Linked DNA regions of Homo sapiens: region 2 is linked to region 1. The links come from fine-mapping of genetic effects on gene expression. Tissue or cell type: monocytes after LPS. Region 1 holds a variant in brackets; the other region holds the start of a gene. All regions are shown on one strand. Distances are from middle to middle.

Region 1 (5,234 bases):
CAATTCCTCCAGTTTTCATTATCTTACTCTTTTTTTATATTAATACCTAGCATATCAAAAATTACAGATGGCAACATTAATGAGTACTGTATAATATTTCTTGAAAAAAATAGTTAATTATAAAGCTTTCTTAGAAATAAAAGGAAAAGACTTTCAAGCATAGAGTCCAGGCAGGTATCTATCATTCTGCTTTCTTCCTTCATGGAATCAACATTTTTAGTTCCCATGTATGAGTGGAACATGCAATATTTGTTTTTCTTTGTCTGGATTATTTCACTTTACACAATGATCTCCCATTCCATTCATGTTGCTGCAGATGACAGCCTTTCGTTATTTTTTTATTGCCAAATTGTATTCCATTGTGTATATATACCACATTTCTTTATCTATTGGTCCATTGATGAGCATTTAGGTTAATTCCATATCTTGGCTACAGTGCTGCAGTAAACATGGAGGCGCAAGTATCTCTTTGATATACTGATTCATTTTCCTTTGGATCAGTACCCGGTGGTAGGATTGCTGGATGGTATGGTAGTTCGGTTTTTAGTTTTTTGAGAAATCTCCATACTGTTTTCCATAGTGGCTATACTAACTTACATTCCCACCAACAATATATAAGTTCCCTTTTCTTAGAGGCTGGGAAGGGTTTTTGGAGGAAGATAAAGAGAGCTTGGTCAATAGGTGAAAACATCAGTTAGAAAAAATAAGTTCTAATGTTCGTTAGCAGAATAGGGTGACCATAGTTAACAGAAAGTTGTTGTATATTTCAGAATAGCTAGTAGACAGGATTTGAAATGTTCCCAACACAGAAATGATAAATACTTGAGCTGATGAATACTCTAAATACCCAGACTTGATCCTTACACATTCTATGCATGTGACAAAATATCACATATCCCCCATTAATATGTACAAACACTTGCATCAACTTTTTAAAAGTCCAGACAAGAAAAAAGCCCATGTTGTTGATAATATAGAAGTTGCAGTCCTCTCCATCACACACGTCATAAAGGCAGCACCAGAAACAAGCCATTGCCCAAGATAAGGGTACCTATTTACTGCGTGAATTTTTGTTTCAGGTTTACTTTATTGCTGCTCTAATTAGAATTCTTGTCCCTTTGTTTCACACTCGTAGCATGTATTTATGTCATCTCTTCTCTGATTTGAAAGATACCATTGTTTCAGCTTAAAACAGCCCCTGGTTTGAAAGTTGCACGGGATGCTTATATAAACAACAGGCAGCATGATAATTCATTGCTTCCTCTTAATTCCCATGTTAGTTGAAACTGGAAAAAAAATGACACATGCCATTTTTAATAGGTAGTTGAGCTTCCTGTATAAAAAAAAAACTTGTAAATTTTGTAATGCTTCTTGGGACATATGTCAGTAATCATCACATGGTTTCAAGCACTGGGAAACATCTTAAAAGATGCTTTAAAGGATGAGTTACAAAAGAAGAAAAGTAGTCACAAGATTCTCTATAATCCCTGTTTGGTCACTCTACATTTTCCTTCTGAATGCACTTTTTGAGAAAGTAAACTTACTTCTTCTCTTCAGTGTCATCTGAAATTTTGATACTTTAAAGAGACCTTTGCAGTTTTGAATTTTGAATATAATATTCCTCAATGTATGAAAAACTACATTAAAAATCTAACTGTGGATGCCTATACTTGAATTAACAAGGAGTTTCATCTCCCAAAATTTCCTCATGCTGTGGTTTTTTTTCTGAGCTGGAATTGACAGATACTAAGTTTCTTAGTCAATCTTGCAGGCGCTTTCAGAATAATTAAGCCTGAGACTACCAGAAAGAACCATTAAAAATTAGAATCAGAGTTGGTGGTATGGAAAGTTCTTTTGAAAGATGGAAAGTTCTTTTGAAAGATGGAAAACATTAATTTAAAAGAGTTCAAGAGTTTAAGCCAAAAGAGCCAGTCAGGTTATGGAGCAAAAAAACTCTGCAAGATTACCACAACTGTACTTCTCTTTGAATAGATTTTCTACTGCCAGTTATATGAAATGGATATAAATCCTCCCATTCCAACAACTCAGGAACTTACTTAAGTGCAGGGTACGATAGCAACTGCAAACGAGTCTAAGAAAATAGGCTGAATGTCATTAAAATCCTTTGAAAATGTTCTGTGACATCTGTTTTCCATTTTGCTATGCTGTTTAATTAACTTCAGTCTTGCAGAATTGCAGAAATCTTATTTGTTCAAAATAGTATCTTGAAGGAAGAGAAGTTTATTTAATAGAGAAGACTGTTAAGTGTAATACGGGCTTGATTAACTTCATCTCAAGTTTTAAATGTTTCCCATTGGCTTCATGATCTATCCCTATATATGGCTCATTTCCATAAAACTAAATCAAACTCTGGATGGCGGATCACTCTTATCCAGTTGGTACTGCTGTCATGTTTCAAGGACACCAAAAATGGAAGAAATTACAGAGAATAGTGACAATTCAGAAACTATTCTTATTTGTCTTCATCGCTATAATATGAGGTCACTGGCTCCTGAGCTAGTGAGGAAATCCAAGTTCTAAAAAACATTCCTTCCTTATATTTGTTT[T/TG]TTTTGTGTGTGTGTGTGTGTGTGATCTTTTTGATAAGAATAGTTGTCAAGGCTGGGCGTGGTGGCTCACGCCTATAATCCCAGCACTTTTGGGAGGCAGAGGTAGGAGGATTGCCTGAGGCCAAGGAGTTTGAGACCAGCCTGAGCAGCATAGCAAGACGTCAAGACCATGGCTCTTTAAAAAAAAATAAAAGTAGCCGGCATGGTGGCTCATGCCTGTAGTCCCAGCTACTCGGGACAGTGAGGTGGAGGATCACTTGAGTCCAGGAATTCAAGGCTGCAGTGAGCTATGATTGTGTCACTGCGCTCCAGCCTAGACGACAGAGTACAATCCTATCTCAAAAACAAAAAACAAACAAAAAAGAATGGTTGGAGAGAGAGAGAGAGAAAGAGGAAAATAAAAAGAGCAATTCATCCTGCAAAGACCTAGAACATGAGTGCCTCTTCTGATGAGGCTCAGTGGTCCTGGAAAGCTCCTATTGGACAAATCTTGGAGAATAAACAGAAACATTTTGGAGAGGTGGGAGAGCGAAGGAACCAGTCTTCATTGACAGCTGACTTTATTTTTCGATTTGTCAGAGCACGCCAAAGCCCAGTGCCCTGTGACCAGGACAAAAGGGGAAGTGGCTGCATTTTGACATGTCCCAGCTTCACTAGAGAAAGCCCACTTGTTTCTGACTTTCCAGTGCGGGCAAAAGCTGGCAGATCCACCACCTGTGCTCTTGCTGCCCAGCATCTAGGGAGCTTTGCTATTCTGAGTGTTTCTGAGGAAGCCATATGGATGGTGCTCAACTGGATTTTTCTACTTAGAGGGCTTTATGGATTTTAATGTAGAGGTCGTGGCTTCTCTGCATCACTGGCAAGTGTTGTCCATCTCTCCGTCCTTCTTGAGTTCCATACCCAGTGCATCATGAACAAATCCATCTTTTTTATCTGACCTATGCTGTGTCTACTCTCTCAGCTCCTGCTTTTGCTTATCCCTCAAAGGGGAGGTGTTCTTAGCTCTCTGACCTCTGGGTTGATACAGAGGCCAAATTTATCCCAGGGAAGGAATAAGTACATTTGAAATAAGTCACTGAGAGGAGAAGACTGTGTGTTTTAAAGCCAGGTTTGTTTAAAGTGTTATGATAGTATTAAGATGTTCTTTCATTTTCATAGAAGTACTTCATTTGGCTAGAAGGTCAAATGCCTGGTGCTTTGAGGACCTGAACAGTTTCTGTTCCATGAACATACCGGACTCAGGAGTTCTTTTGCTCCAGATACTAAGTTATTAGAACAGTGTTTCCCAACTATGGTGAAAGAAAATCAATAATCAGAATTTTTTAGTAGTTTTCAGTATTTCAAAAGATCTAGTTCGTTTCACAGTTCAACTGAAATGATGGGTGTATTTGCATCTAGTGGCAATCATATTCACTATGTTAACCCTACATATGTTAATCATAAGCTCTGATTGACAGTTGTATATTTTCTGTTTAGCACTAAATAAGGAAAGAATTCTAGTAATTTATTGAATGTAGTTGGATTTCCTTCAGACTACAAAGAATGCCTTGACAATCTCACTCCCTCCTTTTGATTTTCAGTGATTCAGGTCATCTGGATTCCTGGCCTTCCTCCTGCTATTCTCTTCTGTAATCTCCATTTGCCCGACCACCTCCTACCATCTTTTAGTTTAAACGCCATTCTCTGCCTTCCAGGAGCTATAGACTAGAATAGATTGCCTTCTGTGTCCTCCCCAGCAGTAGAAATTTCTACTGCGTGATAACTCTCACGCAATTACTCTCTCAGGGTTCTCTGACACCAGAGATTGTGTTATATCTTATTCTTTACCTTGCCCCAGCCCCTGCCCTGGTGTTTGGCACATAATCTACACTCAATAAATATTTCTTTGTTTAATGGGTGGATTGAATTCATTGTCACACTGAGTGACATCCATCTGGATGCTTGATTACACCACGCGGCTATCATATTCTGAAGGAACATGATATCTATGAAGATCTCAATCATGGTTTAATCCCCAGCAACTAGCACAGTGTCTAAGACAGAAACTTAATATGGTTCAATTACTTTCGAGATTTTTTTTTTAATGGGGACACTACAGATTTGGATAAAAGACATTAATGATGATGTTTCCTGTCCTATCACTAGGCAGTTCTATGAAAAGGCACTCCTTTTTTCAAAATTCCAACTTATAATGTAAGATTTGATGGGTTTGTTCAATTCCTACTAAGTGAGCAGTACCATGATTTTAGGTCTGTAAGTAGCTTAAAGTTAAACTTAGAACTTTGGTTGGCGATGCTCACCCTGGTCTCTGTTATGGATAACAGTTTGAATGAGGTTGATGACTGGGTCTTTTAACTTGATGTCCTTGTTTATTTTCTGCTTGCTTTGTTTGGTCAGGTCTGGCATGGAGCCGAAAAATAAGAGCTTGCTTGCAGTTTGACTTTCACTGTGATTCAGTTTTGCAATCTTTTAAAAACATCCTTCAGGAGACCGCCATGTATCTATCTGTGGACATCTCCCAGATTTTCCAAAACAAGCACAAGATAAATAAGGGGGATTTGGAAATTTCCAAATTTTAACAGATGGGAATTTGCTTCCACTGTCTGAGAAATCTTTGCTATAGATAGAGGGGAATCCCAGAAAAAAATCTAAGTCTGAAAGCTCCAC
Region 2 (5,234 bases), 240 kb before region 1:
TAATTTGTTATGAAGCAGTAGATAAGTTATATCTGATTTTGGAGGTGGAGGAGGTCTGTTTGTGTGATCTGTAAGAGGAACAGAGATGAAGATTCATAGAGAAAAGCAGGTCCAAAACCAATATGCCAACATATAGAATAGACAAATGGGTGCTGAGTCACCCAGAATAATGGCAGGGTGTGGAGTGAAGAAGAGAACCAAGAGCCCAACTAGATCCAAAGTCTTAATTTTAAAAAGTGGGATGGAGGATGGTTGATGCAAATATAAGTGCTTCAAAAGAGCAGGAATTTCTATAAGAAGAAGTAATCATTTGAAAGCTGAACTGGAGCCCCATGAAGGAGCCACAGACTCCCTTTCCCAACCTTCGTGCACACAGAAATGGGCTCTGGTGGAAAATATGAAAGTGCATGAGAAATGATATTACTGTCCACACACTAATCTCATCCTTAATATCAACTGGACCTTGCTATACTAACTTAAGAGTGTTGATCAAACTTTCTAAATTTTTTTGATGCCAATTTTCTAAGGAAAAGAACTTCTTATAAGATTTTTAAAACAAGCTTGGTTTGCTGCACTATTTGCAATACACACACAAAAAGGTCACATTTCTGTGTCCTTTTGAGTAAAGTCATATCCATCTTTGAAGCCTCTCTCAGGACCACAAGCTGTTTTTTTTTCTTTTTTCTTCTTATGGCTTCATCACTTCACTGGTGTTATACCAGGATTTAGGAACCAAGCAATCCAAAGAAATGTGGGAGAGGCCTCGTCTGGCCAGTAGTCCAACATGATTGCCTCTGGAATTCACCATGAGACTCACAGTTCACCAGAAGGCAGAGGCAAAAATCAGAGTTGCCAATTAAAATTATTTCTAAAGATGGGTTCACTGCTTCCTATTCCCAAGCCTTTCTGAGACTCCATGGGGTGAATCACTTGCTTCTTTTCTGTATCTCCTCCTGCAGGCATTTAAGCTTTGTAATTTAGTTACATGCATACTTATATTTATCTCTTTCCAACAATTTTGTTCATTTCTGATATCTTCTATTGTCTTCCCTCCCAATTTCTGCCCTTTTCAGTTTTTACTATTATCTTGTGGTTTTAGGAAAAAGCAGATATAAATATGTGTTTAAGCAATGCTATGGTTTGAAGGTTTTTGTCCCCTTCAAAATTTTTGTTGATTCCTAATCCCCTATGCAACAGTATCAGGAGGTGTAACGTTTAGAAGGTGATTCAGGAGGACTCCTCATGAATGGGATTTGATGCCCTTAGGGCTTGATGGAGGAAGTTTGACCCCCTCTTGCCCTTCCACCTTCTGCCATGTGAGGACACAGTGCTCAAGGCATCACTGTGGAAGCAGAGACAGGAACTTCACCAGACAACAAACCTGCTGGCACCTTGATCTTAGACTTCCCAGCCTCCAGAACTATGAGAAATCAATTTCTGTTCTTTGTAAATTACCCAGTCTGTGGCATTTTGTTATAATGACACAAACTAAGACAATCAATCAGAGTTATATTTCCTTGTAAGTATAAATTTTATTTTTTTATTTTTATTTTTATTTTTTTTAAGAAGGAGTCTCGCTCTGTCACCCAGGCTGGAGTGCAGTGATGGGATCTCGGCTCACTGCAAGCTCCGCCTCCCGGGTTCACACCATTCTCCTGCCTCAGCCTCCCAAGTGGCTGGGACTACAGGCACCCGCCACCACGCCCAGCTAATTTTTTGTATTTTTAGTAGAGAGGGGGTTTCACTGTGTTAGCCAGGATGGTCTCAATCTCCTGACCTCATGATCCACCCACCTCGGCCTCCCAAAGTACTGCAATTACAGGCATAAGCCACCACGCCCAGCCGTAAGTATAAATTTTAAAATCACTTCTTAATTAATATAATAGATGAAATGACCCACAGAAGTATCCACTCACAGAAAGGACCATTTCTAAAGGACCAGTTTGGCCTATAAAGAAAATACAATAGCAGACCTTCACAAATTTTCTAACATCAGAAAAGAAAAAATATTTAGATATTAAACTGAATCAAATGTGATGGTCTTACCCAGACAAAGGAAGACTCAGCACCCCATTTCCAAGTTAACTGGGAGCTTTTGTGTTGCTCTTTTTGCCCCCCTTATATTTGATTCTGCTACCTGACCTTTAAACAGAAAAGCTTTCTCTTCTTGCTATCTATGTTTGTTATTTAAAAGATCAAAATATTAAACTCTTGCTATATCTATTTGTCATTTGAAAGATCAAAATATTAAATGATTGTGAAACATTTTTTGCAACTGTAAGAGGGTTGATACTTTTCCTGAATATTATTCATTCAACATTCATTTATTTCTTTGACAAATATTTAAGAGATGCTCATGATGTCCTAGGCATTGAGCTAAGAACTCAATGTTGCAATGTGGATAAGATCCAGTCCCTGTGTGTTCATACTTATTTAATACTATTATAGACAAGGCCTTTAATACATACCATAGTCATATATCAATTTTTAATTAGCAATATGAAATAAGAGAACAATGGGACTTTCCACTCAATTTGACAGGTGGCTAAATTTTCAGTTACTGAATTTACTATTTTAGGGTAATCTAGCACATGACCAAAATTTAAATGCACAGAACAGAAGATCAGAGTAAGAAGAGCTTCCATTTGGATTATCACTTTTTCTACTTGGAGTCACATACTGTACTTTAAATTGATTAAGAACATGTTAAAGGTCCAGGTGGTGATTTCCAGCTACAAGTCCAAAGTATAGAAGAATGTGTTTAAATCCTACGTTTATCAGATCCATAAATATAGTTCCTTCTATGTTAAGTGGCTTTATTTCTAAGAACCCAGCCCTCGGTCCTGGGGGTGCTTCCCAGCCCGCTGCTGGAATTCCTGATCGTGGCAGTCTGCTGAAACATGAGCTCAGTTACCAAATATAGCTGAGTGGAGTAAGAGGACAGATGAGAGTCTGAGGCCACAGTTGCCTCAAAGTGACCACGGACCAGGCAGTCTCTAATGAATAGGCAAGGCCACAACCTCCATTCTCCCAGAAAAGAAGAAATGCTCATCTGAAATTCATCACCTCTCTGGAGTCTTCAAACTGACCAAGCATTGAAAAGGTCTGTAAGGTGTATCTTAATATACTAACTAGTAGGGCAACATTTTAAGGACTTAAAAAAAAAAAAACTAAAAATACAAAAGTTTTTCTGAAGATATGATACTATTTACAAGATACCTTAATTATTCTTTTGCTTGGAGAGGAAACGTAATGAGAATGTTACGGTTTTGCCAAAAACAGATAATACGTAAGATTTGCCTGCCCACTTCATCTCTGCCTTTGCTGTCAGAGAATTACACTTTCTGTTATAAGCTTAAGCATGCTAAGATGGTGCTATCAATTCCAAAAGGATTAAATGTATTTATGGAGCCAGCTTTTGTCAAGATCGTGTATGTGTTATGTTTCACAGAAAAGGAAAACGCAGCTTTCTAGACCCTCACCCATATTTAAGCTAGATAAGTGATGATGGCTTAAAGTGATAGACCTTAGATTTCAGTAACATTATAAATTGTTAATTACACTTTCAAAAGATTCTAAAAGTAACTCACTGGACATAATTAAATGAGTTGGGATAGTAACAGCAGGTATTTTAAATTATATTCATGCATAAAATTTACATACATATTTTTAATAAGATAACGCTTACTAAGGGAAACCACAGTGCAATCTCGAGTCCAGTCAAGTTTAAACATCACAGAATAATTTTTATCATGTTGTTTTAAGTTGCACATGAAATTGTCTTGAATCCAATATAGGAGGTTGACATAAAATGATTTCAGGCTCATATTACTTATTAACATTTGCTAAAAATACTAATTGCCTTCTAGTATGAATAATGTGGTGACATATAAAGCCATTTCTTGGCAATATAAAACTATTACAAATCTATTCAATCACATATATGCAGAAATTAAATCCTCATTTCATGATAAATGTGCCTTCCAATGTTTTTTCTCACAGAAAGAACTTGAATACTCACCTCAATTATTCAGATTTTTTTTTCAGATTTTTAAAATCAAAGTCTCTTTGACAAGTTATTGCTAACAGCAGAAAAGGCCGATGAGGTTTATCTGGCCACTAACTGCCCTGTAAATACATGATTACACATTCCTAGAATATAAATTAGTCCTCTGGCATCCTAGAATCTGGTATGGATTAGGGTCTGTATCCCAGGGGTTCTGTGTCAGCTCTTCCTCTGGGTTTCTCTGTTATTGCTAGAGCTGAATATTAAAACTGGCCTTATAGCATATTTCACAATAGAATGAGGATCTGGATTGCACTGGACAAGTACAATCACTTTGACCTCCTTACCTCATTTTTTAAAAATGTAGAGGGCAATCATTATTCAGGTTTAAAAATAAATATGACAAGTTCTTTAAGAGATACCAAGTGGAATCTGCAAGGCCCAGACAAGAGCTCCACTTCTTAAACAATATGTGTGTGGAGGCTGTCAAAGGGTATTGCAATTACTGAGCTCCAGTTAGAAATTCAGGCCATCTAGAGTTAATGACTGTGTCCCGGTGAAATTACAGCAAAGAAAACAAAGATTGAACAAAGTATCTTCGACTAAAATTTCTAACTGTTAAATCATATTAGAGAATATAGAAGCAAATTTGGTAAATAGGTTTTGAATTTAAGTGAGAAGAATAAAGCCCTGAATTGGATAATGGTAATGGAAATGGATAATTCAGAAGTAAAATCTAAATATTTGCAATGGACTCAGTATGGTGAATAAAGTTGATAAGATGAACAGGACATGGGATAACTTCAAAAACTCTGTAAAGTATCTTATTTGGCTGTTTCTGCATTAAATGAGCTATTAGATTATGTCCTTGAAATTGAGATTAAATAAGCTGTTTAAAGAGATATTTAAAACTGTAGGATAAATATATCTGCCTGCATTGACAATTTAATAATTAGAAAGGAAAATAATCCATGTGTATTTATTAAGAAATAAATTATAAAATTGTAGTGCATTTTCTGCATCAAACATAAAATTTCATAAAATTTTCGTGTTTGACTTTTGCCCTAAAGGACCCTTTGTAGCAAAAAAAAAAAAAAAAAAAAAAAAAAGGAAGGAAGAAAGAAAGGGAGACGGGGAAGAAGGAAGGGAGAAGGGAGGGAGGAAGGGAGGGAGGATGGGAGGGAGGATGGGAGGGAGGATGGGAGGGAGGAAGGGAGGGAGACATGGA

Which allele goes with the higher level. Alleles are on the strand shown, and positions count from the first base shown. SD is a standard deviation of normalised expression in the study named.
In carriers of allele TG in region 1, the expression in monocytes after LPS of the gene that starts at base 2,961 in region 2 tends to be higher than with T alone (moderate effect, 0.68 SD a copy in Fairfax 2014).

Evidence for each region. PIP is the estimated chance that this variant, and not a neighbour inherited with it, causes the effect.
Region 2: PALLD starts here. The variant in region 1 is fine-mapped to the expression of PALLD in monocytes after LPS (Fairfax 2014, PIP 0.95).

The regions. Positions count from the first base shown.
Region 1 is chr4:168,738,777-168,744,010 of GRCh38, forward strand. All of the region lies in intron 10 of PALLD (palladin, cytoskeletal associated protein), which reads left to right. Among named protein-coding and RNA genes, the nearest start is that of PALLD-AS1, 93 kb to the left of the region's middle. The variant T/TG (reference allele first, on the strand shown) is at 2,568.
Region 2 is chr4:168,494,092-168,499,325 of GRCh38, forward strand. It overlaps PALLD (palladin, cytoskeletal associated protein), which reads left to right and starts at 2,961. Exons shown (of 22, transcript NM_001166108.2): 1 at 2,961-3,103. All of the region lies in intron 1 of LOC107986198 (a long non-coding RNA gene), which reads right to left.